7 linked regions of the Homo sapiens genome follow. The gene in region 2 interacts genetically with the main gene of each other region. Each region holds a gene or a part of one and is shown on either strand. Other genes may lie near its edges.

Region 1 (4,330 bases), on a different chromosome or scaffold from region 2:
ATTGAATTAAAAAAAATTTAGCCAGGTAGTACAGTGGTACACATGCCTGTAGTCCCAGCTATTCAGGAGGCTGAAGTTGGAGGAACCCTTGAGCCAGGAAGTTCAAAGTTGCAGTGAACTGTGATCGCACCACTGCACTCCAGCCTGGGCAACAGAGTGAGACCCCGTCTCCAAAAAAAAAAAAAAAAAAAAAGAACATGGATGTAGATGTATGCTTTTTTTTACCAGCTCTGCCCCATATCTCACATAACTTCCCTACCCTGGCTTTCCTCCCATAAAAGGAAAAAGGAAAGGTGATGGACAACAGAGTCTGAAGGGCAAGGTGTGTTCCCATTTGGGGAACCCAGTTAAACCCTTTCCAAAAGAAGCCAGACAATGAGAGTCAATTCATTAAGCTGGGTGACCAGTGGTGGAAGTTGAAGGCCTTGCTCCCTGGACACAGGTTGGAGGGCAGAGTGCTTGGATCTACTTCTTCATGGGGGCAGGAAAGGATTTTAGGTTACCTGGAATATGATGGGAGAGAAGGTGAGAGGACAAAAGCAAAGACAAACAGGGCCCCACCTGCCCAGGTGGAGAGGGCAGAGAAGGCAAAGTGGGCCAAGAACTTTGCCCCACCACAATGGCATCTTTTCTTTTTTTATTATTTTTTTTTATTTTTGAGGCAGAATCTCACTCTGTCGCCCAGGCTGGAGTGCAGTGGTGCAGTTTCAGCTCACTGCAGCCTTGATCTCCTGGGCTCAAGCGATCATCCCACCTCAGCTTCCCGAGTACCTGGGACTATAGGTGCGTACCACCATGCCCGGCTAATTTTTGTATTTTTTTGGAGAGACAGGGTCTCTCTATGTTGCCCAAGCTGGTCTTGAATTCCTGGGCCCAAGCTATCTGCCAGCCTACACCTCCCAAAGTGCTAGGATTACAGGCGTGTGCCATCCCACCCAGCCAATGGTTTCTTTCAGAAGCAACTGAAAAGCCAGGCACAGTGGCTCACCCCTGTAATCCCAGCACTCTGGGAGGCCAAGACGGGTGGATCACTTAAGGTCAGGAGTTCAAGACCAGCCTAACCAACATGGTGAAATCCTATCTCTACCAAAAATACAAAAATTAGCCAGTTATGGTGGCGCACGCATGTAATCCCAGCTACTCGGGAGGCTGAGGCAGGAGAATCGCTTGAACCTGGGAGGCAGAGGCTCCAGTGAGCTGGGTTCACACCACTGTACTCCAGCATGGGTGACAGAGCGAGACTCCATCTCAAAAAAAAAAAAAAAAAGAAGCAAGTGAAGGTAATACATATGGAAACAAAACCTAACAGAGAGAAGTCCCGGGGCTACTGGATGGAAAGAACTCTGAAGCCTGCAAAAGGGCTATGCGGAGAAAGCAAGTCCTAGAGGGGGGCAAAGAAATGAGGGCAGCCAGGCACAGTGGCTCACACCTGTAATTCCAGCACTCTGGGAGGCTGAAATAGGAGGATCACTTGAGCCCAGGAGTTCGAGACCAGCCTGGGCAATGTGGTGAAACCCCATCTCTACAAAAACTTAAAACAGTAGCTGGGTGTGGTGGCACTCACTGGTAGTCCCAGCTACTGGTAAGACTGAGGAGGGAAGATTGCTTGAGACCAGGTCAAGGCTTCAGTGATCACATCCCTGCACTCCAGCCTAGGCGACAGAGTAAAGCCTTGTCTCAAAAAAAAAAAAAAAAAAAAAAGAGAAAAGATTAAGGGCAACCATGATAGATCTTTGTTTTACCACATGAGGGTTTTACATGAGATTGCATCTGCTGTGAATTTCTGAGCACGTGGCATTCCTTAAGTAATCTGGCCTTGACACTTAATTTGCTTTATAAACTTAATTCTCCATAAATAACTGAATCATCAATTCTTGATTACATGAGCAATTGAACAAGAATTATTCCAAACAGGAAATAATCTAACAGTTATTCTGATTTGGTCAGGATTCCTGCTGCCATAGATATTTGGTGCCTCTAGTATTTAGGCTCTTCACAATTCCCTCAAATAAGTAGAATTCTCTAATATTGAGTTAACTTCACATCAGAACTCCATAGTGAACTTGGTCCTGCTGCTTCTTCTGGTGGGAACAAGGACCGCCTCCCAGCGAATAGATGCAAAACATCAGCCCAAATTTGCCTGTTCCCCTCAAACCTTCCCTGGGAGCTGGCCAGAAGGTACCAAAGTTTCTTGCTTTCAAAGGCCTTCTCTTCCAGCTCCAACTCCAGGAGCTATACAAGGTGCAGAATCGAAAAGCGTCATCTGTCTTCAGACAGCTTCAGTAAATATATTTCTCCTTAACAACCTTTCACCTAAGCATCTGGAAATTCAATATCATGTTTCAGGAGGTTAAAGAGGAGAAAGTTCAAATACTCAAGCTCCAATATTCACTTACTCTCAGGGAAGATCTTTGCTTGGAATCCTTTGCCAAAGACAAGATTCTCCAGATTATTGAAGGCCTGGTTGAGGGAGTTAAGGAGTAGGGTGTGCAACGGGGACAGAGCTGTGTGGGGAAGGGGAAGGGCACATGCCTACGTGGCCCGCCCCCTCCAACTGCAGGGAGGATACAGTGAGCGAGAACACGAAGAGACCCGAACCAAGCAGGCCGCCCTGGATGGTGAGCCACTCGGTGGAGGCCAGCTGACGGCTGTACATCTGCATCCCAGCAAAGAGCAGCAGGGACAGGAGGGAGGAGAGCGCCAGCGAGGTGCCCGTACCCACCACTGGAGGGGATGGGAGAAGGGACGGAGAGTCAGGCTCCGCCCTCCCTCCGGCAAGCTACGGGCAGATCAGCCGGTCCGGAAGCTCGGTGGGCCGACCCCCTCCAAGAACTCCCGGGACTGCAGCCACACGCCCCAACTCCCCACACCGCGCGGCAACCCCTACGTATTCCCCAGCCCCGGACACCCCGAACCCTCCCGTCCGGTGGAAATGCCCGCTCCCGGTGGAACCCAGGACACGTCAGCTCTGTCGGGAGAGGACGAGGAAAGCTTGTCCACCCAAACCCCGACCCCCTCTAGGACTTCCTGGGGACCCCACCGGTCCTGTTACCCATCATGCCCCGCCCGTGAGTCCAACCGGCGCCTCTGGCCAAGAAAGGCGAGCTGAACCGGGTGCGGTTAGCTATGCGCATGCGTCAGCGCTTACCGCGGACTTGCTACTCCTCGCGTTCTCCTCTTTCTTCCTCTCAGTGCCTGGACGCAGCGCCCTCTTGCGACAGGGAGGAAATAATGCGTCGAGGGGGCATCCTCGGCCACCGCCCTGGTCCTCAGGCTTTCCTCGTACCTGGTGCGTCTGCTGCCACTCTGTACAAGGTGCACTTATCTCTTTAAGTCATTGGGCCCATGCCTGTGGCATCTATCCCATCTCTGTCTTCTTTGCCATTTCTTTCATCTCTAGTGCACGTTCCTCAAACCTCCCTGCCCCATGCCTCAACATCTCCCAACCTAAAATTTAGTGCTCCCAACCAGGAACTCATTTTCCTCCGAAACTAATCCCCCGCTTTATATGAGTAAAATTAGGAGCCAATGAAAAATGAGAATGTAAGAAATGGCTCCCCCGTCAAATACCTTTCCATATTCCCCAACCCCCCGACCGGCTTTCGAGAACCACGTGGGGAGAACTATTTCCCACCCCCTACCCCGACGGGCGCTGTTCGAGGCTGGTCCCGGGAGCATGCGCAGTGACACCTCAACCCCCAGCCCTCCTCACACCCCCACTGGGCTCCTGCATTAAGCCCGGGGTTCGCAGCCGCAGCCGGGATCGGGCACCCAGGGGCGGGCGGGCACGGTAGGGCCATGGCAGAGGGTGAGGATATGCAGACCTTCACTTCCATCATGGACGCACTGGTCCGCATCAGTGTGAGTTAAGGTGGGGTCGAGGGAAGGGGAGGGGGCGTATAGGGTTCTGGGGCAAGCTGGGACCTGGAACAGGTGGGGATCCAGGAAGATGCTGGGATGTAGACAGGGGGCTAGCGATGGCAGAAACGGCTGGGAGGGTCGGGATGCAGGTATGAGAGGGTAATCCCGGGAGCAGCCCGGAGGTGAGTGCCGTGAAGGCGTCGGTGTGCTGGAGCGTGAGGAGGAGCTAGGAGCAGCCCAGACGCAGCGGGTGGGCTGGGGTGGCCTCCAGCAGTGCACCGGGGCTGGGGCTTCAGGGGAAAGGCCCTGTTATGAGAAGAGGGACGTGTGAGCTTGGATATTTTCCAAGAAAACTGAGGACAGGTGGGGGATGATGTAGGAGCCGCCCCACAGTGCAGTTCCCAATTTGGACCCCTCCCCAAGACCCCACCCCACGCACCCCCACTCAGGGCTGCTTCCGAGCCTGCGG
Region 2 (3,836 bases):
AAGACAAATGCTTTGAAAGAGGAGAAAATCATTACTAATGAAACTCTGGTCATTGAAAAACTGTCAAATAAAACCCCACGATCACTTTCTTCTCAAGTAGATACACCCATAATGACAAAATCATGTGTGACTTCCTGTACTAAGGAGCCAGAAACTTCTAATAAGTACATTGATGCATTTACTACAAGTGATTTTGAGGATGATTGGGAAAACTTACTAGGTAGTGAACCTTTTGCTATGCAAAATATCGACATGCCTGAACTCTTTCCTTCTAAAACAGCCCATGTTACTGATCAAAAGGAAATTTGTACCTTTAATAGTAAAACTGTTAAAAATACGTCAAGAGCAAATACAAGTCCAGATGCCAGGTTAGGAGATTCAAAAGTATTACAAGATCTTTCTTCAAAGACATATGACAGAGAATTAATAGATGCAGAATATAGATTTTCACCAAATTCAAATAAATCAAACAAATTATCCACTGGAAATAAAATGAAATTTGAGAACTCTTCCAATAAAATTGTTATTCAAGACGAAATTCAAAATTGTATAGTTACATCTAATCTGACAAAAATAAAGGAAGATATTCTTACTAACTCTACTGAAGCTTCTGAAAGGAAGTCAGCTTTGAACACAAGGTATTCTAATGAACAGAAAAATAAGTGCATTTTAAATCAGTCTATTAAAGCCCCTGTTAATACTGATCTTTTTGGCTCTGCAAATCTAGGCAGTAAAACCAGTGTTAGTAACCCAAATCAGACTAGTGCATCAAAAGTAGGTTCTTTCTTTGATGATTGGAATGATCCCTCATTTGCCAATGAAATTATTAAAGCATGTCATCAATTAGATAATACCTGGGAAGCAGATGATGTAGATGATGATTTGTTGTACCAAGCATGTGATGATATTGAAAGACTAACTCAGCAACAAGACATTAGAAAGGACAGTAAGACATCAGAAAGTATATGTGAGATCAATAATAATTCCGAACATGGAGCCAAACTAACTCAGCAACAAGACATTAGAAAGGACAGTAAGACATCAGAAAGTATATGTGAGATCAATAATAATTCCGAACATGGAGCCAAAAACATGTTTGCTATATCTAAACAAGGAAGTAATTTGGTACAATCAAAGCATTTGAATCCAGGCAGCATTTCAGTGCAGACATCTTTGACAAATAGCTCACAAATAGATAAGCCAATGAAGATGGAGAAAGGGGAAATGTATGGAAATTCTCCAAGATTTTTAGGTGCCACAAATTTGACTATGTATTCTAAGATCTCAAACTGTCAGATAAATAATCTGCATGTGTCTTATACTAACACTGATGTTCCAATACAAGTGAATAGTTCCAAATTGGTTCTTCCAGGAAGTTCAAGTTTGAATGTAACTTCAGATCATATGAATACAGAAATTACTACTTATAAGAAGAAATTGAGTACTAATCAGCCATGCCATAAGACTGTAACAGATGAAGCTCAGAGCAACCTTAACACAACAGTTGGATTTTCAAAGTTTACATTTACAAGGATGAAAAATTCTCAGATTCTTTCTCAGTTTAATCAAAATTGTATAACTGGAAGTATGTCTGATACCAAAATTACACAGGGTGTGGAGAAAAAGAAAGGTGTCAACCCATTACTGGAGGAAGCTGTTGGACAGCAATCTTTGGTGAAACTTTCTGAATCTTTGAAACAATCTTCAAAAGGTATGTATGAAATATGAAATAGTTTTCTTTGAAAAGCATCTTAAAAAGTAGTAAAATAATTATTTGTTGTTTTTGAGTGTGAGTAATGTATAAGGTAAAACTATTCTATGACTAGTTAATTTTAAGAATTAACTAGAATTCTTAAAATGATACTTGGAAATAATTATACGGCATTATACAGAGTAGTTGGTTTATTTTTCAAAATATTACATTGAATTCTTTCCCAGCACTTAATACAATGACTGGCATATAGTAGGTACTCAGTAAATATTTTTTGAATAACTTATTCTTTCTTGGAAAATCATACCTTTAGATATATGTATTATAGTGTTCATTAAGATTGTATTTACTAAATTGTTTTAAAACTTGAGTAATCTGGGAAGCAGATGATGAAGCAGTGAGGTAAATAATATTTAGAAATTTAGAGCATTCTAATTAAACGTCTTTACTAGTGTGATATTTGATATAAACGTGCTAGCGGTGATGGTTAAAATTATGATTTACTTATTTGATAACAGCTATCATTTCTGATTCTTCCAATTTCTCTTTTCCCCAAGTCTCCATTCTATCAATAAGTTTCATTCTTTCAAAAACCGTATCCCCAGACTCCATTTTTCTTTCTACAACAAGTTAACATTTCTTGATGAGACTACTGCAGTTCTTTTATCTATCTCCTTTCAATTCTTATCTCCAAACAGTGGAATAGCCTTTTAAAATTGGATGGGCAAAAATGGCGTTTCTATGCTTAAAACAACCTTCAATGGCTGCCCGTCATATTTCAAATAAAATCCAAACTGTATACTGTGACCAACAAAGCTGTGGATTATCTCTCTTTAACCTGCGTCTCCTCTTTTTTCCTTACCTACTAAGCTTCAGCTATACCAGCTATCTTTTAGTTTTTCAAACAGTGTATGTTTTTCTTCCTTGTCCAGGAACTTAGACCGTGCTCTTCCCTTTGACTAAAACTACTTCTTTTCAACATGTGACCCCTTCCCCACTCTTTTGTTGGTGCTTTCTTACATCTCAGTATAAGTACTACTTTCTCACAGAGGCCTTCCTTGAAGAGTCTATAAATAGATCTCCTTGTTTATTTTTTATTTCCTAATTGCTTTCATCACAAGTTGAAATTAAATATTTAGTGACTCTTCTCTGTCTTGTTGGCATTACTGTTCCAACTTTCCTATCTAAGTGACTTTTTTTAAAAATTTACAATAGTAATATGCTAGTTATTTAAAAAGAAAAGTAAAACAGTATAGAATAATTTAAAGGAAAAAGTTAAGTCTTCTGTTTCTCCTTTCTGATAACCATCCCTTACGGAAAACCACTATTAATAGTTGGTATGATGTAGCATTTTCTATGAATATAAAAAGATATGTGTGTGTGTATGTACGTATATATGTGTATGCATATATATATACCTATAGATCTATTTAAATATTAATAAATCTGTATACCCACTATTTGGCAACTTGCTTTTGCCTTAATATATTATAGCTGTCTTTTCCTATTAGTACATATAAATTTATTTTAGTCCTGTTAATGACTATGTGATATATATGGTGGATGTATCATAATTTAACTGTTTCTCTGTGATGGAAGTTTGGGTTGGTTGCAGTCTTTTGCAATTACAAACAATACTCCAGTAAATATCCTTCTGCATAAATTTCCGCATGCTTGTATAATTGTATCTGTTAATTCCTAAAAAATTGCTACAAGAGGAAGTTTTAAAATTTGATGGATACCACCAAATTTCTATCCGAAGCAGTTATACCAATTTATCTTATCAAAACTTACAGTAAATAATTCTCTACACCCAAGGGTGTCCAATCTTTTGGCTTCCCTGGGCCACATTGGAAGAATTATCTTGGATCACACATAAGATACACTGACACTAACAACAGCTGATGAACTAAAAAAAAAAAAAAAAAAAATCACAAAAGAATCTCATAATGTTGTAAAAAAGTTTATGAATTTGTGTTGGGCTGCATTCAAAGCCATCCTGGGCTGCGGGTAGCTTGCGGGCTGCGGGTTGGACAAGCTTGCTTTACATGATAGCCCAAACTAGATATTTTGAAATATTAAAAATTGTTCTCAATCTATAATAATTTTAAGTATTTAAATTTGT
Region 3 (4,529 bases), on a different chromosome or scaffold from region 2:
AGACAGCGTCAGGGGCGTGTGTGAAAGTCCAGGGAGGTGGCTAGGTGCTGTGGCTCACACCTGTAATCCCAGCACTTTGGGAAGCCGAGGTGTGCGGATCATTTGAGGTCAGGAGTTCAAGACCAACCTGACCAACATGGTGAAACGCTGTCTCTACTAAAAATACAAAAAAATTAGCCAGGCATGGTTGTGCATGCCTGTAATCCCAGCTACGCTGAAGGCTGAGGCAGGAGAATTGCGTGAACTCAGGAGGCAGAGGTTGCAGTGAGCCAAGATTGTGCTACTGCACTTCCAGCCTGGGCAGCAGAGTGAGACTCCACCTCAAAAAAACACAAAAAACAAAAAACAAAACAAAAAAAAAGAAAAGAAAAGAAAAGAAAAAAGTCCAGGGAGGGAGGCCCCAGGGGCCAGAGTGCTACTTAGCCACTACTCCCATTGTATTGATGGAAAAACTATGTGCTGAAAAAAGACAAAGCTCTAAGACAAGACCAAGGAAGGATGGGGACTGAGGCCCCTCAGGGCAGCAGGCACCCAGTAACCCGTTAGGGGCTCATCTGAAGCCTGTCTTCTGGGGCCACACTGACCTACCTCTACCTCCCCCAGCCAGCACCCTATTCCTGGAAACTCTCAGTAGCTTAGAAAGGACCACCTAGCTCAATCTTGCTATGATTAGGGCAAAGTGTCACAGGTTTCAGTGACTGGCAAGCAAGGACCAGCCCTCTCCTTGCCTCTTCTGGTTGGAGCCAATGACAGCCACAGGCTGAGTTAGACCGGCACATTTTGGGGTTAGAAAACACAAGGCTAGTGTGGGGGCCAATGCCCACTTCCACCAAGGCAGACCCAGAAAGCAAGCTGGTTCATCTCCTGGACAGAACCCCACACCTCAGGCCAGCCTAGAGAAGACACAGAGGGGCCATTAGGACACAGGTGACAGTCCCAACAGCAGTGTCCTATGATAGAAACCTGCTATCGAGGGGTGAAAGCCCCCATCTCACTCCACAGCAATGCTGTGAGAAGGAACTGTAGGGTTTTGAAGTGTGGATCCTCCCCACCTCCACCCTTGGGACACTCTGGGTTAAGTACTGACTTTGGTCTCACCTCCCCCACATGCTTCTTGGGGTCTGCTGGGTCCCCACCCCCACCCCAGGAGTCCCTCTCTCCTGGGTCTCAGCCCATGGAATACCCTTTGCTCTGGAGACTTCTTGAGGCCCCTATCTGGGACCCAGTCAATAGACAGGAAACCACCTGGGACCCTCAGGAGTCTTTGTGGGAGGGGTGGCGGCTTCAGGGAGCCAACAGAGAACTCTTAGGGGTGTGGGAATGACCTGATCTCCTGCCAGTAGGAGGTGGAAAGCCCAGGATACACTCTCTCAAGGGAGACGACTCCTCCACTCAAGACAGTTGCCAAAATGTAGGTGCCTCCTTCCCTGACCCATACTGAGGCAAGCAAGCTCTCGGAAAGGGCAGGTGCCCAGGGAGCAGGCTCAGATCATCCTTGAGAGGCAGCTCTGTTGATCCTCTCTGCCAAGCTCCAACGTCACTCAGCCAGCACCCAGGCCAGGGTCCCGGAGAAGAGCCCACCACCGCAGCACCGCCCCTGCCTTACGCAGTGGGAAAGGAAACAGCTCTCTGTTCCCACTTTCACCTTCTAGGGGCCTCGGGATGGCCGATGGCAAAGACCAGGAAGAAGAGCGCGATTCCTGCCCAATTGTGGCCAGCATCTGGATTCTCCCGGAGGGCTGGATCGGGCCTCGCCGAGTGTTCTCCCATCTCCCACCTTCCCTACCTGAGGCTCTGGGCTCTCCAGACGCTACAACCCAACCTGGGGCAGCCCAAAGTCTCCAGTGGAGGGGAAAGCGAACGGGATCGGTCTCTATCCCCTTTCCCCTACCCGCCCTGAACATAACTCGGGTGCCTAGGGCCCACAGCCGATTTCGCTTAGAGGCTGCCGCCGCACCCGACCTGGCGGGCTTCCGGGTGTCCCCAAGCCCCTCCCGGCGGCGCCGAGACGCACGTGCATCCAGCAGGCTGACACACAGGCCGCCGCCACGCATGCAAACCCGTGCCTGCACGTACGTGCATGGCCCACATCTGCACACACGCCATTCCAGAACTGCGCTCTCCCCTCGCTCGGGCCCCGGGCATACGTGTGCACGCAGGCAGGCCCGCGCACCCAGCCCCACACCGACGCCCGCGGACCGGCGGGAGGTCCCGGAACAGGGGCGGCCCGGCGACAGGGTCCGGGCAGCCTCCGCCTCAGGGCGATCCTGCCAGCCTGGGCTGAGGCCAGAGGGGTGAGTCAAGAGGTGGCGAGAAAACCGCAGGGCCGTCCCATCCCAGCAGGGCGCGTCCAGGGCCCCGCGGTGCCTCAGCGCCCGGCGCCCCCAGGCCCAGCCCTCCAGTGCCCCCTTGTCCCCATACCTCCTCCTCAACGCCATCCCCCAGCAATCCACGTGACAGGGTCCTGCGGGAGGCCGGAGGGCTCGGCCTGAGTTCCTTCTCGCCAGATTAGGCGCCTGTTCTCCGCCGGAGACCCAGAGCGCTACCAGGTCCCGGGAGCCTCGAAGTCCGGGGAAAGTCGGAGCAGCAGCGCCACCCCTGCCCCGCAGCCCGTTCGCGGGGGGCCGGCGGCAGCCAGAAGCCGCAGCCCCTCGGCCCAGGCGCGGCTCCCTCAGTCCCCGGGCCGGCCGGTAGGGGCGCCCTGGGGCAGCGCCACCCGCCCCTTCTCCACGCGCCGCCCGCAAACTCGGCCCAAGTTTCCGCGCCCGCCGAGCGGGCGAGCTCCTACCTGCAGAGCGCCAGGACTCCCGCCGCCGCTACCCCAGGCGGCCTCCGCGTCCGCATCCTCCAGCGTCTCTCAGGCCGCGGGTCCTAGTCCGACCGGGCCCTGCGCGGGAAGTCGCAGTGAGCACCAAGCCCGGAGCAACCCTCCTAGCTGCCGTTCGCGCCGCCGCTGGGCGCCGTCTGCGGTCCCGGGCGGGGCGGGCTGGGGGCGGGGCGGGGGCGGGGCGACTCGCAGGGTTGGGGAAGAGCCCGGCCCCGCCTCTGGGAGCCTGCGCTCCTGTGGGCAGCGGGTGCGGAGGGCCCGCGTGGGGCCAGCTCGCTAGGAGCGGGCTGCGGGCGCTGTGCACCGCCCGTAACCGCCACGCTCCACGAACCAGTGCCCGGCGGGCCCGTCACGCGCCCTCAGTCGCTCCCTTAGATCGTTCATTCACTGCCACTTGCTGCGATGTGACCTTGCGCCTGCCGCTTGACCTCGCTGAGCTTCAGTTTCCTTATTTGCAAAAGTGGAATTCTGTCTTCCTCATAGCGGTGGCGGTGTAAGCTTGGAAAAGGGTGTTTGCAAATATCTGGCACACAGTAGGTGCCGGCATTCCCCTGTCCAGCACTAGTGTATTAGGGGGCTGGAGAAGGGCTCCTTGATCTGTCCCCTCATTTCGTTGTAGTCAATGAGGGCAATTTCCAGACTCCTGCTAGGGCACGGCAACTGTCTGAGGAAGCGGCAATCTCCCCATCCCTGGAAGGGCCGGGAATGAGGGTGCTGGGGGATTTGCAAAGTAGCCTGGGTGAGGCTCCCTCCATGAGGCAGACCGGCGCGCAGCCTGTGAGGCGGGTGGAGTGGAGCACGCCCAGCCAGGAATGGTGTGTTGCAAAGAGAGGCTGGAGGGGGGAAGGGGTGCCTCTCCCTGGACCATCTGACTGTGGATGAGAGCCCCTCAGTGCTGCTACTTTATCTGAAGGAATCTGGTCCGTCAAAGCTCCTGGGCTGCCCGAGGACTGGGAACAGGTGTGTGCAGTGGGGAAGGGGAGGGCAGGTGGACATGCCAAAGGTCAGAGTCAGTTCAGGAAGCAAAACTATCCCCTCAGATCCCAAAGGTAAGTTCTGCCTGAGTCAGAGCAGAGCAGGCCTGAGGCTGCAGGTTCCAAGAATCACCAAGCAGCTGGAGCAGCTGGAGCTGAGGAGGAGGGGCTGGGCGCTGCAGGTAGGAAGAGGAAGTGAGGTCACCTGGGGAGCGGGGGCGGGAGGTGGGGGGAGAGTGTCACTTCATTTAGAGCTGGAAGGACCTTAGAAATAGAGTCGGGAACCATATAGGGAGAGACACTCAGAGAGGGTTGGGGCTTTCCCCAGGTCACTCAGCAGGCTGGGACAAAATCCCAGATCTCCTGGCTCCCAGCCTGGGGCCCTTCCTGCAGCCACACCTTAGCGTCAGGAAAATACATCTGCGCGCGGACAGCTAGGGGTCACACCAAACATCATACCCTTAACCCCAGCCTGCAGCCCCGTGGGTCACAGGCTATTCACTGCTCTTGCCCCTTACCAACTCTGCTCGCCCCTCCTCCTCCAGCACCGCGCCGGCGACCCTGTCCCTGCCCTGCTAGTGGGGTGGAAGGAGGGCTGTGTTCTTAGCCCTTGGGGTCTAGGACGCTCAGGTTGTGTGCTCAGATGTGCCCAGTGGTCTCTCCAATTTCCCTGAGTTGGAATGGGACCCAACCAGGCCAGGATGAGCAGCCATCTGAGACAATAGGGG
Region 4 (4,618 bases), on a different chromosome or scaffold from region 2:
GACCAAAGCTTTTCCTATTACGCCATCTTGCCAGATCCCCGCAACCATCCCATATGAATTTTAAAGTAGTTTTCTTCTAATTCCGTGAAGAATGTCATTGGTAGTTTAATAGCAACATCACTGAATCTATAAATTTCCCTGGTCAGTTTGGCCATTTTGAAAATATTGCTTCTTCCTGTTCACGAGCATGGAATGTTTTTCCATTTGTGTCATCTCTGATTTCTTTGGGCAGTGTTTTGTAGTTCTCATAGTGGAGATTGTTCTCCTCCCTAGTTAGCTGTATTCCTAGGTATTTTATTCTTTTTGTGGCAATTGTGAATGGGATTGTGTTTCTGATTTGGCTCTGTGCTTGAAGGTAGTTGGTGTACAGAAACACTCCTGGTTTTTGTACATTAATTTTGTATCTTGAAGCTTTCCTGAAGTTGTTTATAAGATCAAGGAGCTTTTGGGCAGAGATTCTGGGATTTTCTAGGTATAGAATCACATGGTTTCCAAACAGATTGTTTGACTTGTGTGAAAAACATAGTGGAGTAGAAGCAAACACGTGTCAGCAATGGAATAGAAAAATAAAAGTGCCCATGAATAAATTTAATTTGAATGTGAAGAACTAATATGAAGCAAATAACACAGTCATTGTGTGGGATATGTTAAAAGACTTGAGGAATTGAGGAGTGGCTTTTTTTTGATAGAGAGATTCTAAAATAGGAAGATGGCTATTGTCCCAGAGTTAACATGTAATATAAAAATAATAACTAGTATCTCAACAGGAATATTTTAGCACCTGATCAAATGATTCTGAAGTTCATCTGAAAGACCAACGTGTCAGAATTGATAGAAAAGGAGAAATCAATGAGGGAGGGCAAGCATTATTTCACATTTCAAATATAATTTAAGCTACAGCAATTAAAATAGTGTAGTAGTGGTACAGGTATAAACAACTCAATGGAAGAAAATTAAAAGAAGAGAGTTACATACAAAATTGAGTGGGGATGTAGGTGATGATAAAAGAGCCATTTCAAAACAGTGGGTGCAACAGGGATTCAACAAATAATGTTGAGTTCCTACCACTTTAATTTTGTCCAGATGGATCAAAGATTTTGAACGTACAATAATGCAACCAAAAACTATGAATGTCTTATATTGGAATGGGTTAGACAATTGCAAGCATGACAGCAAACTCGTGAAGGAGGCAAGAAAATGATTTATGGAAGCGTATATAAAACAGATATTAAAATATTTAAGATTTATTTCTATGATGGTGAAGTTTTCTGAAACACATTATTAGAGTAACCTGGGGCTCATATTCTCCAAAGCCACTGGAAGTGAAAGAAAGGGTGGGCGGGGGAAAAAGAAAAGTGCTTTGCAAGTTCATTTTCGTTGTCAGGAGCGCTGGTGGTTTAGGTTCTCCACAGACGCAGGAAAACATCAGTCACGAGGCGAATGTCCCAGTCAGTGTGCATGCTGCACAGACCTGTTGCTGCACTTGTCTGTTGTTACGCATGTCTGTTGCTACACGTGTCTGTTGTTGCGCATGCGCCTTGCTGCCCGCCTTCTGTCCACACACAGCTCTGCAAGGAGAGTGTCTTCATTCTTTCCGCCATCTTGATTCTTTGTCACTGACCGAGACTCAGCCGGTAGGTCCGCAGAGCGGTCTTCCTGGGAATTTAGTTGTGGGTGAATGTGTGGAGGAGCCAGCTGGCTTTGGACAGGTCCTGCGGCACAGTCCGTGGCTTCCGAGGGAAAAGGGCCTCGCGGTCGTCGTCCGGCCCCTCCCAGGTCGGGATGCCACCGTGGGACTTGTCGTCGTGGCTGGGCTGGGACGAGGGACGAGGGAGGAAGGTGGGCCACAGAGGGGAGGGATCGCGTGAAGATGGGGCGAGTGCTGGGGGTGCTGTTAGAGGTGTCTGAGTCTCGAAAACTCCTGGAACCCTCTGAGAGAGGACAGTTTCCAGACTCCTCGGTAGGGACGCGGGAAGAGACCATGTGGTCAGTAAGGAAGGGGCCTGGGAACTGGGAACGCTGTGGGCCGGTGACTGTGGCCCCGAGGTCTGTAGAGTGCCTGGCAGAGGTGTCCCGTGAGGAGCATAACGTTCACTCTGTTTCACAATTTCTCACCTCCGCCATGGACGCCATGGAAGGAATGGGCGAGGCTGTGCTTTCCAACAAGACTTGATTTTGAGAGAGGTGTGGGGGTGAAATGGGCCTAGCAAATCAGAGTGGGACAAAAGCAGTAGTCATTTCAGTTTCAATTCTCTGCCCTTTTTTCCCCCAAATGTCTTCATGATGGAGAGTCTAATTGTGAAACCAAAACGCAGAAATGTCCTCTGTCTTTTGCTATGGCGTTAAGGGGATTTCTATGCCTCTTCGACTATGATACAAACAAATCTGTCCTTAGTTTGATTGGAAAGCGTGGGTACTTATCAATGCTCTGTGAATTACGTTGAAAATATTTTCAAAATTAAAAAAATACAAATCACCATTTTGCCATGGAATGTTCATATATATAGCTAAGTTCTTATACACTTTTTCCAAATAACAGTATTCTATTTTCAGTGGGAAATATGAGTGAGCATGTGAGAACAAGATCCCAATCCTCAGAAAGAGGAAATGACCAAGAGTCTTCCCAGCCAGTTGGATCTGTGATTGTGAGTCCTTTAACATTTGATGTTTCCTATTAACACAATTTATTTTAAGAAATATTTTTGAGCTAGTGTACACGCACTGATACAGGTGTTCCATGCTGATAAAAAATGATGATGGCATCTCATGAAGGAAACGTTGGTTCAGGAATATTATATTCTGGTGTTACCTGTATGGATATGGATATTTCTCTCTCTCTCTCTCTCTATATATATATATGTGTGTGTGTGTGTATATGTATATATGTATATATGTATGTATGTATGTATATATGTATGTGTATATATGTATGTATATACGTATGTATGTATATATACATATATGTATATACATATATATGTGTTTATATATGTTGGAAAAATGTCTTTAGATGTGTGATTCGATGCACATATGCATTTGTGTATTTATATTATTGACTTTTTATTCACACACACACTTACACCCTTAGGTCCAGGAGCCCACTGAGGAAAAACGTCAAGAAGAGGAACCACCAACTGATAATCAGGGTATTGCACCTAGTGGGGAGATCGAAAATGAAGGAGCACCTGCCGTTCAAGGTGAAGGGAGAGTGGAGAATAATGCTTATGGGTGGTGGAGGTCTATTTATGCATTGTATTTTATGACATACCAGTAACAGGAGGACAGAAAGCATTAGGAAGGAATCTTAAACATTTCCTACTGCTGCTGTGTGGAGGGGTGGGACAAGGACGCATAAAAAGCCACTAAGCTTTCCTACCACTTTGACGGAGGCTTTTTATTGATTGGGTATTTTCATGGTTGCCATAAACCTTTTTCCAGAGCTCCTGTATGCTTTGTTCAGCCATTTTCTGTTTTTTGTTGCTGTGGAAGAATGGCAGCTTGCAGCTTCCTAGTCTGCCATCTGTGGACACGTCATGTATTTTTTAAGAAACTTTTTAACACACCTTTATTGATGCTTCCTCATACCACGTAATATACTAAGTGCTGGAGATGTCAGTGCCAAATTTTTGCCTAAAGCTCATAGTCTAGTCAGATTGACTCAAACAAATCGCTGATTTAATGTGATAAGAATAAGAACAAATGAGTACAAAAGGGACAAGTAAGTTGTCTAGGGCCAGCCTTGGGAAAGGAAAGGGCAATGTTTGAACATCTCTGCTTTCCTGTTTTCCTGGCAGCAGATTCCTGAAATAATTAGCCTACAGGTTTTTACTTCATAATGATGAGGGAATAAATATTATCATTTCCTTGTTCATAGTTCATGTTTTAATTTGTAAACTGATGACCTTTTTATCTTTTAAGGGCCTGACATGGAAGCTTTTCAACAGGAACTGGCTCTGCTTAAGATAGAGGATGAGCCTGGAGATGGTCCTGATGTCAGGGAGGGGATTATGCCCACTTTTGATCTCACTAAAGTGCTGGAAGCAGGTTTGTTATTCATTTAAGATGCAAACTATTGTATTTCTATTTTCACAGTATTTTGTGTGACACAGAGGTAAAATTACTGCTACTTTAATATCATACTTCACGTCTGAAGGTTCTTTGAATGTAGTTCAGACCCCAAATGGCTGCCTTACACACTATCAGGGATAGAGGGCCAGGTGTGGTGGCTCATGCTGTTAATTCCAGCACTTTGGGAGGCCGAGACAGAAAGATCACTTGAGGCCAGGACTTCCAGAGATGGAGAAAAATTGGGTCAAAGCTAATTGGATTACGATATGAAAGATATGAAACATGCTAAAACAGTAGATTTCAAGTGTCTTCACAGCTATATGAAGTAATGCATATATTAATTAGCTTGATGTAGCCATTTTACAATGTGTATATATATATATTTAAAACGTCATGTTTTACATGATAAATATATACAATTTTATGTGTCATTTTTAAAGAAAGATGAAAACGTGTTCTGACTTTTAAATGTAAGTCATTTTACCAACAGCCAATAATTTTCAAATATTTTTATAGAGGCCTGTTTTTAACAAATACATAACATGTTTAT
Region 5 (4,403 bases), on a different chromosome or scaffold from region 2:
GTTTCCTGAGCTTGAAGGGGTTTAGAATATGCCACGGTGGCATGAAAATTATTTTGAGCAGAAGGCATGTGAATTCCTGAAATCTGGTCGGGTGTGGTGGCTCACACCTGTAATCTCAGCACTTGGGAAGGCCGAGGCGGGCGGATCACCTAAGGTCAGGGTTTCAAGACCAGCCTTACCAACATGATGAAACCCCGTCTCTACTAAAAATACAAAAATTAGCCAGGCATGGTGGCGGACGCCTGTAATCCCAGCTACTCAAGAGGCTGAGGCAGGAGAACCGCATGAACCCAGGCGATGGAGGTTGCGGTGAGCTGAGATTGTGCCACTGCACTCCAGCCTGGGTGACAGAGTGAGATCTTGTCTCAAAAAAAAAAAAAAATTGTGGTAAGATACCCATAATATAAAATTCACCATTAAAAAATAACACGGAAGGGATCATCGTGAATGCAATGTGAGTATTGATGAGGATGGTGGTGATCTTCCAGAACCTTCTCTGACGCCACCCAGGCCGCCAGCCTTACTTTACCGGCTTCGGCGCTCATCATACTGTGCTGCAAATGCCAGTTTCCTCCTTCCCCCTTGGGAAGTTTCCTCCTTGGGGGTCGGCACCTAGACTGTATACCCCCCAGGGCGGAAACAGCGGTTCACCCACCAGGTGCTTAAGAAGGGTTTGTGGACCAGTGGACCTCCTGCTCTCCCTGGGGAAAGGAGCTGGGACATGTGTACACACCTGCAGCTACAAGATTCGGAGGGCGCACAGAGCCTCAACCGTAAGAAGGAGAGGCGATCAGGCTGAGGAAGATGGGGCAGTGGAGCTGGATGGATAGAGAGAGGGTGGGTTCATTCATTCGTTCACTCATTCGTTTATTCATATTCATCCATCCATCATTCATGCCCTGAGCGTGCGTTGTGTTCTGGGCAGGGCCTGTGCTGGGCACCGATTGTGTAATATATCATCTCTCCCTTCAAGGTGCACCCAATCTGGGTGGGTGGGTAGAGAGAAGCTACGGTGACAAGGCAAAAATTTGGGAAACACTCTCGTTAACAATTCAAACTGTGGTCCCCTCCCAGATGTATAAATCCAAATGTTTAGGGGTGGGCACAGTACTCTGCATCTCCAGACAGCATCCTCCGCTGATTCGGATGCATGATGACGTCAGAACACTTGGATATTGTGGTAACTTTTGGGCCAGGGGCTCTGAAACCCCGAAGACCTCCCCCTGGGAGATCCGGGACAGCTCCCAGAGAAGGTGAGTCTTAAACACATCCGTGACAGGCAATAAGGAAAATAAGGGGGGTCCGCTCTGCTGATCAGCCCTAAGAGCCGCGGCGGTTGTCGGCTGGGGCGGGGCACTCCACGACTTTCCCGGCCAGACACGGTCGCCTTCCTAGGTGTCTTGGCCTGCGAGGCACTCGTAGCCCGCCCCTCTCCTAGGTGACGTACATTGGAGACGCCGTCGCTCAGCGACCCGGGTTCGAGTCCCCGCCTCGGCCGCCATGGCGGATGCGGAGCCGGAGGCTGGGGGCGGCAGCGAGGATGGCGGCGGCGGCGGCGGCCCGGCTCCTCCGGGCCAGAGCGGCAGCGTCGCACGTGTGGCCCCGCTGGGCCCCGAGCAGCTGCGGCAGGTCCTGGAGCAGGTGACGAAGGCGCAGCCGCCGCCGCCGCCGCCCCCCTTCGTGCTGCGGGACGCGGCGCGGCGGCTGCGGGACGCGGCCCAACAGGCCGCCCTGCAGCGGGGCCGGGGCACCGAGCCCCCGCGCCTGCCGCGCCTGCTCCCGCCCCAGGTGAGGCGTCGGGAGGGACGTGGGGAAACTGAGGCCCGAAGGGGGCCGACGCCCCGCGGCGGGGTAGCTGCTTGTCCGGGGAGGCCAGTATCCGCCCGGGTTAAGACTCAGGGCGTCCCCAGGCTGAGCTTCTTAGGGACGGCGTTCGGCCCCCACCTGTCACCACCCTGGCATTTTCACCCCAGGAGCCTCACTCTAGGAGCGGTTGCTCACGCTGGGCCCTGTGCCTGGAACGCCCTCGTGCCTTCTCTGCCTTCACAGCCCTGCTGGGGGCTTTTGCGTGCTCCCTAGCTCTTCTTACAGGCCTTTCACCGCTGGTTCAGCCTTTGTGGAGCACTTAGAGACCGTGTTCCCAGCACTCCCCACTATGTGCAGGAGGTGAAGCCTTGAACACACTTGCTGAAGAACGAACATAAGGCAGGTTCTGGGATTGACGGGGGCTGCTTTAGAGTGGGTGGTCCCGTAGGCCAGACACTGGAGCTGAAACATAAATGAATTAAAAGGAACCAACTTAGCTTTTCAGTTGTAAGGTGCCAAGGCCCAGGCTTGGAACAAAGTCAAGCACAATACACTAGTTCGCTGCAGGACTTAACATCCTGGGTGATAGTGACTGATTTGTAACCGCAGTACCCAGCACAGTGCCTGATACACAATGTTTGGAATATGTGAAAGCACTCTGTATACTACAAAACATCCTTTCCCAGTGGGTTTATTTCCTGGGCCACACACCTTTTGGTTGCTAGGGGGGTGATAACTAGAAGACGGTCGCCCAACTCCGGAGGGTGAAGCATAGCGCCTGAAGCCAGAGGGCCTACACGGCATCTGTAAAATTCCACCCCATTTCAGCGCTGGGGTTGTAAACAAAATTAGTCTCACCCCAAAATTGCCAAAAGAAGACAGCTTTTTCCACTAGAAGAAACGGGTTAGGGAATAGAATCAGGAACCTTCACTCGTTGAGTTTTTTTGACTGATGTTAGCTGCTTAGGGTTGTATCCAGTTAATCATCAAGACTGGAGAGTTGTCTTGCTAAGGTTTAGGAAGACCAGTGTGATTCTGTCCAGATGCCACACTATCACTATCTAGAGGTGTGACCTTGGGTAAGTCAACCTTTTTGGACTTTGGTCTGGGTCAGAAGGCTGCAAGGTGCCATCTGGGGGCAGCTATCTGCAAAGCCTCTGCTCTGCGCCCGGCGCTGTGCGGGGCCGCTCAGTTTTCAGCAGTGTTTTTGTACCGGCATTTTGCAGGTGGGAAACAAGCTCAGGGAGGTTGCGTGGCTTTGCCCAAGGTCCCTCAGGTGTGGCTGCTCTCCCTAGCCCCTGTACTCCTCACCATACCCTGCTGAATATGGCCACAGCTTTTTGGGTTTGGAATCCAAAAATGACATATTTTTCGTAAAGCAAAAGCAAACTTATTCGAGCTTAGGCAGCATGATGGGATTGTATTTTGTAGCTAATCTAATGGAGACGATATAAATTCTACCTGCAATAATATACCTTTGCAGCACATTCTTTTAATACTCTTTCAGCCCCAGCTGTGTCATGGAGGCCACAAAGGCAAACCGGATGCGTACTTTGCCCCTCAGTAGTTTATGAACTAACAGGAGATGAAACAAGACCCAGATAACTTCTAGTCAAGGCCAGAAAGCTAAAGATAGTGAAAAAGAACTGAATGTATTTAGAGAAAGGGAGATTGTTCCTGGCTGAGGACATCAGAAGCAGCTTTGTTGAAGAAGTGGTATCTGAACTAGATTTGAAAGGGTGCGTCTGAGTTGAAAATGCAGAAGGGGAGAGGCAGGTTCTGGGGCGGTTGGGGGTGCATTTCAACAACCACAGCAGAAGGCCCAGTGTTCGCTGTGGGGGTGGTGTGGATCAGCAGCACAGACCAATGGACACACTTGGGTCAGATCGAGGCCCCTGTCTCTCCCCATCCTCCCTCTTCCCCACCCCACAGAAATTTCCAGTTCCATCCAACATGCTGTGCCCCTTTTCATGCATCCGTGCATTTACACATGGATGTGTGCCCTTTTTCACCTGGCAAAAATTCCCAGCCTTCAAAATGCCCCTCAGAGATCACAGCTTCTGGGCAGCCCACCACCTCTGGGCTGTTCCTGCCTCTTGATTGCACCTGTTGTACCATGATGACATTTTTCCTGTCTGCCTCACCTGTCTGCATTCCTTAGGGAAGCTTGTCTGCCTTCAGAATCATCAGTGGAGCTTTTGAAAGGGCAGATCTTGGGGCCTCACCCCAGGAGATCCGATTCAGCAGGTCTGCGGGGACTGAGGTATGGCAGGGGAAACCGCCCCCATCTCAAGGGTGAGGTTAGGACTTGGCTCCTGTGTATGTATTCCACCCAGAAATACTGAGTTAACATTAGCTGAATTAACTAAACAAAGTATCAAGCATAATACCCACAGGGTAAGCCAGTGAGGATAGAGGATAAATACATTATTAGTCTGGCTTTGCCGCTGTGGTTATCCTCAAACAGTAGGGTTTAGTGTATGTATGTATATGTATTATGTTTTTGTTTTGGGGTTTTGTTGAGACAGGGTCTTTCTTTCTCACCCAGGCTGGACTGATCTCGGCTCACTACAGCCTCGAACTCCCAGGCTCAAATG
Region 6 (4,409 bases), on a different chromosome or scaffold from region 2:
AGCAGGAACCCTGCTGGCCACACCCCACCCCTTACCAGGTGAGAGATGTGGAGGGGATAATTCACCACAACCCCCCAGTTTCCTCCCGCGTCACACACGCCACCCCTCTCTGGTGTGGAACCACTTAAGATTTGGGTAAAACTCCCCTCTCGCCCTGGAGACGGGATCTGGAAGCTTTTAGGGGGCGGAGGTAGAGGTGGGGAGGCAGAAGGAAAATTCCCTCAAACGTTCGTCAGGCCTAAGAGAGTCGTCCCTTCACTCAAAATTGCCCGTCACCCCCCGCCCCCCACCATTAACTTTCGATTAAGACCTCCTCCTTAGGGCAACTAAACTTTACTTTGCACAATTAAGATTTGCCGCAGAAGAAGCGGGAGGGAGAAGCCGCAGCTCCGGGCCATTCTCCTTTCCCTCGCTCCCTCCAAGCCCCCCGCCCCAACCCTCCAGCTCCGGGCCTCCGAGTTCCTGAGTTTTCTCACTTTGAGGTGCCACCGAACACAAAGAACCATAATGGGCTCCTTTGTGTTGGCTACGGGGCAATTACGCCTCGGAGTCCTGGTCCCTTTAAGAGTCTCTTAAAGAGACAGGATCCCATTTTTCAGAGGGTTTTTTAAGGGTGTGTGGAGGGGGAGGGCGAGGGATCTACGTGTAAAGTGAAGTGAAACTTTCGCCTGGGCTCCAGAAAGAGCGGACAGAAAAGGTCTTTGTAAATTGTTAGTTTTTTTAAAGTCTGTTTTAATTTTTAAATTTGAGATTTTTCACTCGATTTGAAAAATTGGACTAGGAATAGGTGGGGTTCGAGGATCGGGGGCGGGGGCAAGGGTTTAAAGAGTCCCCACCCGGCAGAGCACCTCGGCCCGGGAAGAGGAGTGAGCCAGGGTCGAGTAGTGTCCCCCGATCTCGCCGCGGCAACTCCGGAGAAATCCCGGGCTGGGCAAACAGCCCTTAATATAATAATAGCTTGTCTCTTTAAAAAGCAAAAGGGGGGGAAAGTTTTGTTGGCATCTGGTTTCTGATCTCATTATGTTGTGGTCGACCAATCCAGCCCTCGGGCCTGGTCCTCGGGTTTAAATCTGATTGGCCGAGAGCACATTTTGGGTTGGTGCTTAGAGCTCGACGGGGCGGTTTCAAGGATCCCTTTTTTGGGGGGCTGAGGAGAGGGCGGGGCCGCCAGCGGGGGCCCCCTTGAAACCGACTAATTGGGATCGGAGAGGCCGAGGTGAGGGCTGGAGGAGGCACAAAGAAGTCGCTGGGTGCAGAAGGGAGGGGAGAGGGGGAGCTGAGAGGCGAGAGGAGGAGGAAGAGGAGAGAGGGCAGCAGCGCGCGGTGTCTCCGGCTGCTCAGTCCGACCGCGGCAAGCAAGCGGGCAGGCGCACCGCCCCCTCCCCCGCCCGGCCTCCCCAACTCTGCGGCCGCGAGTAAAGTTTGCAAAGAGGCGCGGGAGGCGGCAGCCGCAGCGAGGAGGCGGCGGGGAAGAAGCGCAGTCTCCGGGTTGGGGGCGGGGGCGGGGGGGGCGCCAAGGAGCCGGGTGGGGGGCGGCGGCCAGCATGCGGCCCCGCAGCGCCCTGCCCCGCCTGCTGCTGCCGCTGCTGCTGCTGCCCGCCGCCGGGCCGGCCCAGTTCCACGGGGAGAAGGGCATCTCCATCCCGGACCACGGCTTCTGCCAGCCCATCTCCATCCCGCTGTGCACGGACATCGCCTACAACCAGACCATCATGCCCAACCTTCTGGGCCACACGAACCAGGAGGACGCAGGCCTAGAGGTGCACCAGTTCTATCCGCTGGTGAAGGTGCAGTGCTCGCCCGAACTGCGCTTCTTCCTGTGCTCCATGTACGCACCCGTGTGCACCGTGCTGGAACAGGCCATCCCGCCGTGCCGCTCTATCTGTGAGCGCGCGCGCCAGGGCTGCGAAGCCCTCATGAACAAGTTCGGTTTTCAGTGGCCCGAGCGCCTGCGCTGCGAGCACTTCCCGCGCCACGGCGCCGAGCAGATCTGCGTCGGCCAGAACCACTCCGAGGACGGAGCTCCCGCGCTACTCACCACCGCGCCGCCGCCGGGACTGCAGCCGGGTGCCGGGGGCACCCCGGGTGGCCCGGGCGGCGGCGGCGCTCCCCCGCGCTACGCCACGCTGGAGCACCCCTTCCACTGCCCGCGCGTCCTCAAGGTGCCATCCTATCTCAGCTACAAGTTTCTGGGCGAGCGTGATTGTGCTGCGCCCTGCGAACCTGCGCGGCCCGATGGTTCCATGTTCTTCTCACAGGAGGAGACGCGTTTCGCGCGCCTCTGGATCCTCACCTGGTCGGTGCTGTGCTGCGCTTCCACCTTCTTCACTGTCACCACGTACTTGGTAGACATGCAGCGCTTCCGCTACCCAGAGCGGCCTATCATTTTTCTGTCGGGCTGCTACACCATGGTGTCGGTGGCCTACATCGCGGGCTTCGTGCTCCAGGAGCGCGTGGTGTGCAACGAGCGCTTCTCCGAGGACGGTTACCGCACGGTGGTGCAGGGCACCAAGAAGGAGGGCTGCACCATCCTCTTCATGATGCTCTACTTCTTCAGCATGGCCAGCTCCATCTGGTGGGTCATCCTGTCGCTCACCTGGTTCCTGGCAGCCGGCATGAAGTGGGGCCACGAGGCCATCGAGGCCAACTCTCAGTACTTCCACCTGGCCGCCTGGGCCGTGCCGGCCGTCAAGACCATCACCATCCTGGCCATGGGCCAGATCGACGGCGACCTGCTGAGCGGCGTGTGCTTCGTAGGCCTCAACAGCCTGGACCCGCTGCGGGGCTTCGTGCTAGCGCCGCTCTTCGTGTACCTGTTCATCGGCACGTCCTTCCTCCTGGCCGGCTTCGTGTCGCTCTTCCGCATCCGCACCATCATGAAGCACGACGGCACCAAGACCGAAAAGCTGGAGCGGCTCATGGTGCGCATCGGCGTCTTCTCCGTGCTCTACACAGTGCCCGCCACCATCGTCATCGCTTGCTACTTCTACGAGCAGGCCTTCCGCGAGCACTGGGAGCGCTCGTGGGTGAGCCAGCACTGCAAGAGCCTGGCCATCCCGTGCCCGGCGCACTACACGCCGCGCATGTCGCCCGACTTCACGGTCTACATGATCAAATACCTCATGACGCTCATCGTGGGCATCACGTCGGGCTTCTGGATCTGGTCGGGCAAGACGCTGCACTCGTGGAGGAAGTTCTACACTCGCCTCACCAACAGCCGACACGGTGAGACCACCGTGTGAGGGACGCCCCCAGGCCGGAACCGCGCGGCGCTTTCCTCCGCCCGGGGTGGGGCCCCTACAGACTCCGTATTTTATTTTTTTAAATAAAAAACGATCGAAACCATTTCACTTTTAGGTTGCTTTTTAAAAGAGAACTCTCTGCCCAACACCCCCACAAGGTTTGTAATTAAAACTGTAAATAGTCTTTGTAAATTTAATTATATATATTTTCTATTTAAAAGAAAAAAGGAGAAAAAAAAACAGGGGTGTGGGCGCCAGGACTGAAGAATGAGGTGTGTGTGTGTTGGGGAGTGTAGTTGGGGGGAGGGTTCTCTTTCTTAAGTGCCCTTCAAAACCCGCCCCACTTTTGGAGTTTTTTGGTGATATGGCAGGGCTGGGCCTGATGGGAGAGGCACCCAGCCTGAGCGCTGTTTTTGTTGGCTTTGAGTCGTTAGGAGTTTGTTCCATTCAACTAATATAAAAGCCAAATTTGTGAGCCTCCTCTCTGACGCTGGGCCTGTGGAAGCCGTTGGATATTTTTGAACAGGACTTGGATTCGTTTTGTTTCCTTCCCCCTTTTCTTTCCCTACTCATTTGTCCTGTCTTCTTCACTCACTCTTGGAAAAGTCCCAACAGAGATGAAGACGTGGAAAAAAAAATCGGGGTCGGGGTGTGCTGGTGGGGAGAGGGCAGAGATCCGGTGAGGAATGGCTTCCACCCCCTGGCCCATTCCCCTGCAGGCTGGAAGATCTTTCTCCTGTCTGGCTTCTCTTCTTTTCAATTCGCTGCACCAAGTGCTTCCAGTGGCCCAAAAATGCTTTTTGAAGTGTGTTTTGAAACAGCCCCCACCAACATACACCCCACCAGGAGTACTGATCCTGCCTCCCTTCATGTCTAGGGGAAGCATTCGCCTTTGAGCACTTGTTTGCAAATCTGGGGAGTTTGAGACCTCCTAGCATCTCTTCCCTTCTTTCCCTGCAGTCTATTCACTCCCGCAGCCAAAAATCTCTGGCGTTCAGGTTAGCAGTTTCTGGGTTGGTTTGTGTGGGTTTTTGTTGTTGTTTGGGGCTTATTTTTTTCAAAAAGTGATAAAGACGGGTGGGTTGGAGGGAGGGGACTGATGGGCTGGTGGGCTTTTTAGTTTTCCTTTGAGAAAAAGACTGGTTTATTTAAAATTTGTCCAGAAAA
Region 7 (3,836 bases), on a different chromosome or scaffold from region 2:
AATTGCTTGAACCCAGGAGATGGAGGTTGCAGTGAGCCAAGATGGTGCCACAGCACTGCAGCCTGGGCAACTCCATCTCAGGAGAAAAAAAAGAAAAAAAAAATTACTTCATATGTATACTGCAAACACTAAAGAGGATAATTTAGAGCATTTGGCCTAGCACATGGTACACATTCAACAAATGATAACTACTATTAGCATCTCTTTTCAATCAAAATGATTTAAAACATGGCAAAACCCCATCTCTACAAAAACAAAAACTAGCTGAGCGTGGTGGTGCGTGCCGGTGCGTGCCTGTAGTCCAGGCTGAGGTGGGAGGAACCCTTGTGCCCAGGGGGTCAGGGCTAGTGAACCATGATCATGGCACTGCAAAAGCTAATAATTAAATTATTGTAGCAGAGATTTTAGTGTGTAATCAGTAAGTTAGTTCTGAGAAGACTGAAAAATAAAATGTTTCACCACTGTAGTGAGTATAAGGGAGGAGGTTATAGAGAGGACCTATAATTTGGAGTATTAATCCATTTACATGGCCAGGCGCAGTGGCTCACGCCTGTAATCACAGCACTTTGGGAGGCTGAGGCGGGCGTATCACTTGAGGTCAGGAGTTCGAGACCAGCCTGGCCAACATGGTGAAACCCCGTCTGTACTAAAAATACAAAAAATTAGCCAGACGTGGTGGTGCATGCCTGCAGTCCTAGCAACTCAGGAGGCTGAGGCAGGAGAATGGCTTGAACCTGGGAGGCAGAGGTTGGAGTGAGCGGAGATCAAGCCACTGCACTCCAGCATGGGCAAAAGAGCAAGACTCGTCTCAAAAAAAAAAAAAAAAAAAAAAAAAAAGGCATTAAGGCAGTATACACATAGCAGTGTAAGTGCTTTGGTAAACTAAACCCTCTTAAGAATAAACATATTCAGATCAGTGGCTCACACTTGTAATTCCAGCACTTTGGGAGGCCGAGGCGGGTGGATCACGAGGTCAGAAGTTAGAGACCAGCCTGAGCAACATGGTGAAACCCCGTCTCTACTAAAAATGCAAAAATTAGCAGGGTGTGGTGGCGCACGCCTGTAATCCCAGCTACTTGGGAGACTGAGGCACGAGAATCACTTGAACCCAGGAGGCGGCTCCAGCCTTCGCAACAGAGTGAAACTGTGTCTCAAAAAATAAAAATTAATAAGATATTTTAGATTCCTTTTTACATGAAATCTGTTCAAAATCTTGTGTGTATTGTGCATTTACAGCACATTTCAATCCTAACTAACCCAATATAAAGTGGCCCATGCCCACGTGTGAGAGTGGCTTACTGTAGTAAAGTTTTAATCTATGCCTTTCCAGAAAGATCCCTGTTTGGTTTTGTTTTTTCTTCCTCCACCGTGTTTTTAGGAAAGACTTCATCAGTTCAGCTCATATGGTCTCTATGCCTTTTCTTAAAGTAACTATCTGAGTAAGAGCACTCACAAACTTGAGTTCTTCCCAATAAAAAGATCACAACTCCATAATTTTACCGGAATTAAACATAAGGGAGGAACAAAAAGCAGGAGAATAACAGCTTACAGATTACAAGACACATTCTTGAACATTCTTTTCTTTCAACCTCGCCAAATCTCTGTAAGGCAGACCATTTGCAAATGGGACCAGATTCTGGAGGACCAGAATTAAATGACTTGTCAAGCGTTATATGGTAGGTGGACCCAATTCCTTGTCTCCAAACTTTACTGGCTGGACAGCTGTACGAACACAAAAAATAAGTGAGCTCTACATCTTCAGCATCGATCTATCCCACTGACTTAAAAGGAAGGGTATTGACAGGCACTAAATTTCTCCCCATTTGCACCGGAACCTAAAATAAGGGCTTTAAAAAAGGCATCCAAATCTACACAAAACCCTAAGGAAGAAAACATAGCAATGGTCATGCAAATACCAAGGTAGATTGGTCCCGTTTCTCAAAAAACTTACCAAGTTGGCTCACCAAGGGGAGCAAAGTCTTAAGTGAACAAATTAAATCCCACTTTGGCTTCCCCAACCTAATATATTCTTGTTAAACTTTAACAAAGCAAGTAAATTCAGCCTGCTGGCTCCTCAGTGTAAGGATAATTATTAAATGCTGTTAAGTAAAAATGCAATTGTAAGAACTAGAAAATGCTGAGTCATTGTCTCAGAATCACAAGGTTCTAAATGTGAATTCACTATGAGAACATATATACAGATTTTTCTCTTTAACTTTAAAAATGCAATCTGAAAGAAAATACATCCTAATGTTATTAGTGGTTATCTCTCAATAGTAGTCTGTGTACTTTTAGTTTCTTTTTTGAAAATTTTCTCCAATTTTTCTACAATGAATATGTTAGCTTTATAGTTACAGAAATATTAATGTATGGCTTAAACTTATTACGGTTTCATTAAATGCAGAATAGAGCTTAATTTTCTATTCAGCTTCAAACACAACTATTTTTCTGATGGGAAACCCATTTTATGTGACCTTGTGATATTGCATATTGGTTTTCATCCATGATTCCTGGTTTATAACTCCCATAACTCTTGTTACAGTCTTTTATTATACTGTTGGGGTGCTTTAAGTCTCAGAAGCAGTCCCCAGAAATATCTCTGACACTCTCCTGCCCCTCCTTTCATTCGCTCCTTTTTCTCCCCAAGGCAGGACTCTAATCTTCCCCTGCTTTTCCATCTTGAAGGTGGCTGTAAAGAAATTCTCTGGGCCAGAAGGGTGGCTCACGCCTGTAAGCCCAACACTTTCACAGGCCAAATCGGGAGGACGGCTTGGACCAGGAGTTCGAGACCAGCCTGAGCAATATAACGAGACACAGTCTCTACTAAAAATTTTTTAAAAGAGGCCAGGCGTGATGGCTCACATCCGTAATCCTGGCACTTTGGGAGGCCAAGTCGGGCAGATCTCTTGAGGTCAGGAGTCCGAGACCAGCCTGGCCAACATGGCAAAACCCTGTCTCTACTAAAAATACAAAATATATATATATATATTACCCAGTGGTGGTGGCGCACACCTGAGGTTGTGACGCTGAGCCAGGACAATCGCTTGAACCCAGGGAGGTGAAGTTTGCAGTGGGTGGAGATCGCGGCACTGCACTTCAGCCTGGGCAACAGAGTAAGGCTCTGTCTCAAAAATAAATAAATAAAATAAATGAATAAAAATTTTTAAAAAAAAAAATAATTGCCAGGCCCGGTGGTTCACGCCTGTAATCCCAGCACTTTGGGAGTCCAAGGCGGGTGGATCGCCTGAGGTCAGGAGTTCGAGACCAGCCTGGCCAGCATGGTGAAACCCCATCTCTACTAAAAATATAAAAATTAGACAGGTGTGGTGGCAGGCGCCTGTAATCCCAGCTACTTGGGAAGCTGAGGCAAGAGAAGCGCTTGACCCTGGGAGGCAGAGGTTGTAGTGAGCCAAGACAGCGCCATTGCACTCCAGCCTGGGCAACAGAGCAAGACTCCGTCTCCAAATAAATAAATTAATTAATTAAAATAAAATAAAGTAAAATAATTTTGGCTAGGTGCAGTGACTCACGCCTGTAATCCCAGCACTTTGGGAGGCCAAGACAGGTGGATCACTTGAGGTCAGGAGTTCGAGACCAGCCTGGCCAATATGGTAAAACCCTGTCTCTACTAAAAATACAAAAATTAGCCAGGTATGGTGGCACATGTCTGTAATCCCAGCTACTCAGGAGTCTGAGGCAGGACAATCACTTGAACCCGGGAAGTGGAGGTTGCAGTGAGCTGAGATCACCCACTGCACTCCAGCCTGGGCAGCGGAGCAAGACTCTGTCTCAAAATAAATAAATAAATAAATATTTAAAAAAATTATCTGATCTCC

Evidence for each region.
Region 1: changes in ETAA1 (region 2) and KRTCAP2 are lethal when combined (synthetic lethality), as found in Homo sapiens cells (one large-scale study listed by BioGRID).
Region 3: changes in ETAA1 (region 2) and C15orf39 are lethal when combined (synthetic lethality), as found in Homo sapiens cells (one large-scale study listed by BioGRID).
Region 4: changes in ETAA1 (region 2) and PAGE2B are lethal when combined (synthetic lethality), as found in Homo sapiens cells (one large-scale study listed by BioGRID).
Region 5: changes in ETAA1 (region 2) and ZNF839 are lethal when combined (synthetic lethality), as found in Homo sapiens cells (one large-scale study listed by BioGRID).
Region 6: changes in ETAA1 (region 2) and FZD2 are lethal when combined (synthetic lethality), as found in Homo sapiens cells (one large-scale study listed by BioGRID).
Region 7: changes in ETAA1 (region 2) and PATJ are lethal when combined (synthetic lethality), as found in Homo sapiens cells (one large-scale study listed by BioGRID).

Annotation. Positions count from the first base shown.
Region 1 is NC_000001.11:155,170,169-155,174,498, forward strand, and holds the start of KRTCAP2 (dolichyl-diphosphooligosaccharide--protein glycosyltransferase subunit KCP2), read right to left. Parts: upstream 3,137-4,330; 5' UTR 3,057-3,136; coding exon 3,053-3,056; intron 2,725-3,052; coding exon 2,570-2,724; intron 2,461-2,569; coding exon 2,397-2,460; intron 1-2,396. Other genes in the region: TRIM46 (tripartite motif-containing protein 46), read left to right, coding at 3,799-3,861. UniProt on the Homo sapiens protein: Subunit of STT3A-containing oligosaccharyl transferase (OST-A) complex that catalyzes the initial transfer of a defined glycan (Glc(3)Man(9)GlcNAc(2) in eukaryotes) from the lipid carrier dolichol-pyrophosphate to an asparagine residue within an Asn-X-Ser/Thr consensus motif in nascent polypeptide chains, the first step in protein N-glycosylation.
Region 2 is NC_000002.12:67,403,625-67,407,460, forward strand, and holds part of ETAA1 (ewing's tumor-associated antigen 1), read left to right. Parts: coding exon 1-1,711; intron 1,712-3,836. UniProt on the Homo sapiens protein: Replication stress response protein that accumulates at DNA damage sites and promotes replication fork progression and integrity.
Region 3 is NC_000015.10:75,200,319-75,204,847, reverse strand, and holds the start of C15orf39 (uncharacterized protein C15orf39), read right to left. Parts: upstream 2,967-4,529; 5' UTR 2,789-2,966; intron 1-2,788.
Region 4 is NC_000023.11:55,073,481-55,078,098, forward strand, and holds the start of PAGE2B (putative G antigen family E member 3), read left to right. Parts: upstream 1-1,549; 5' UTR 1,550-1,634; exon of another isoform or gene 1,635-1,776; intron 1,777-2,539; exon of another isoform or gene 2,540-2,553; coding exon of another isoform or gene 2,554-2,561; coding exon 2,562-2,645; intron 2,646-3,088; coding exon 3,089-3,197; intron 3,198-3,918; coding exon 3,919-4,044; intron 4,045-4,618.
Region 5 is NC_000014.9:102,318,266-102,322,668, forward strand, and holds the start of ZNF839 (zinc finger protein 839), read left to right. Parts: upstream 1-1,480; 5' UTR 1,481-1,500; coding exon 1,501-1,788; intron 1,789-1,807; exon of another isoform or gene 1,808-3,967; coding exon of another isoform or gene 3,968-4,069; intron 4,070-4,403.
Region 6 is NC_000017.11:44,556,145-44,560,553, forward strand, and holds the start of FZD2 (frizzled-2 precursor), read left to right. Parts: upstream 1-1,339; 5' UTR 1,340-1,544; coding exon 1,545-3,242; 3' UTR 3,243-4,409. UniProt on the Homo sapiens protein: Receptor for Wnt proteins.
Region 7 is NC_000001.11:61,745,248-61,749,083, reverse strand, and holds part of PATJ (inaD-like protein), read right to left. Parts: intron 1,986-3,836; exon of another isoform or gene 1,952-1,985; intron 1-1,951.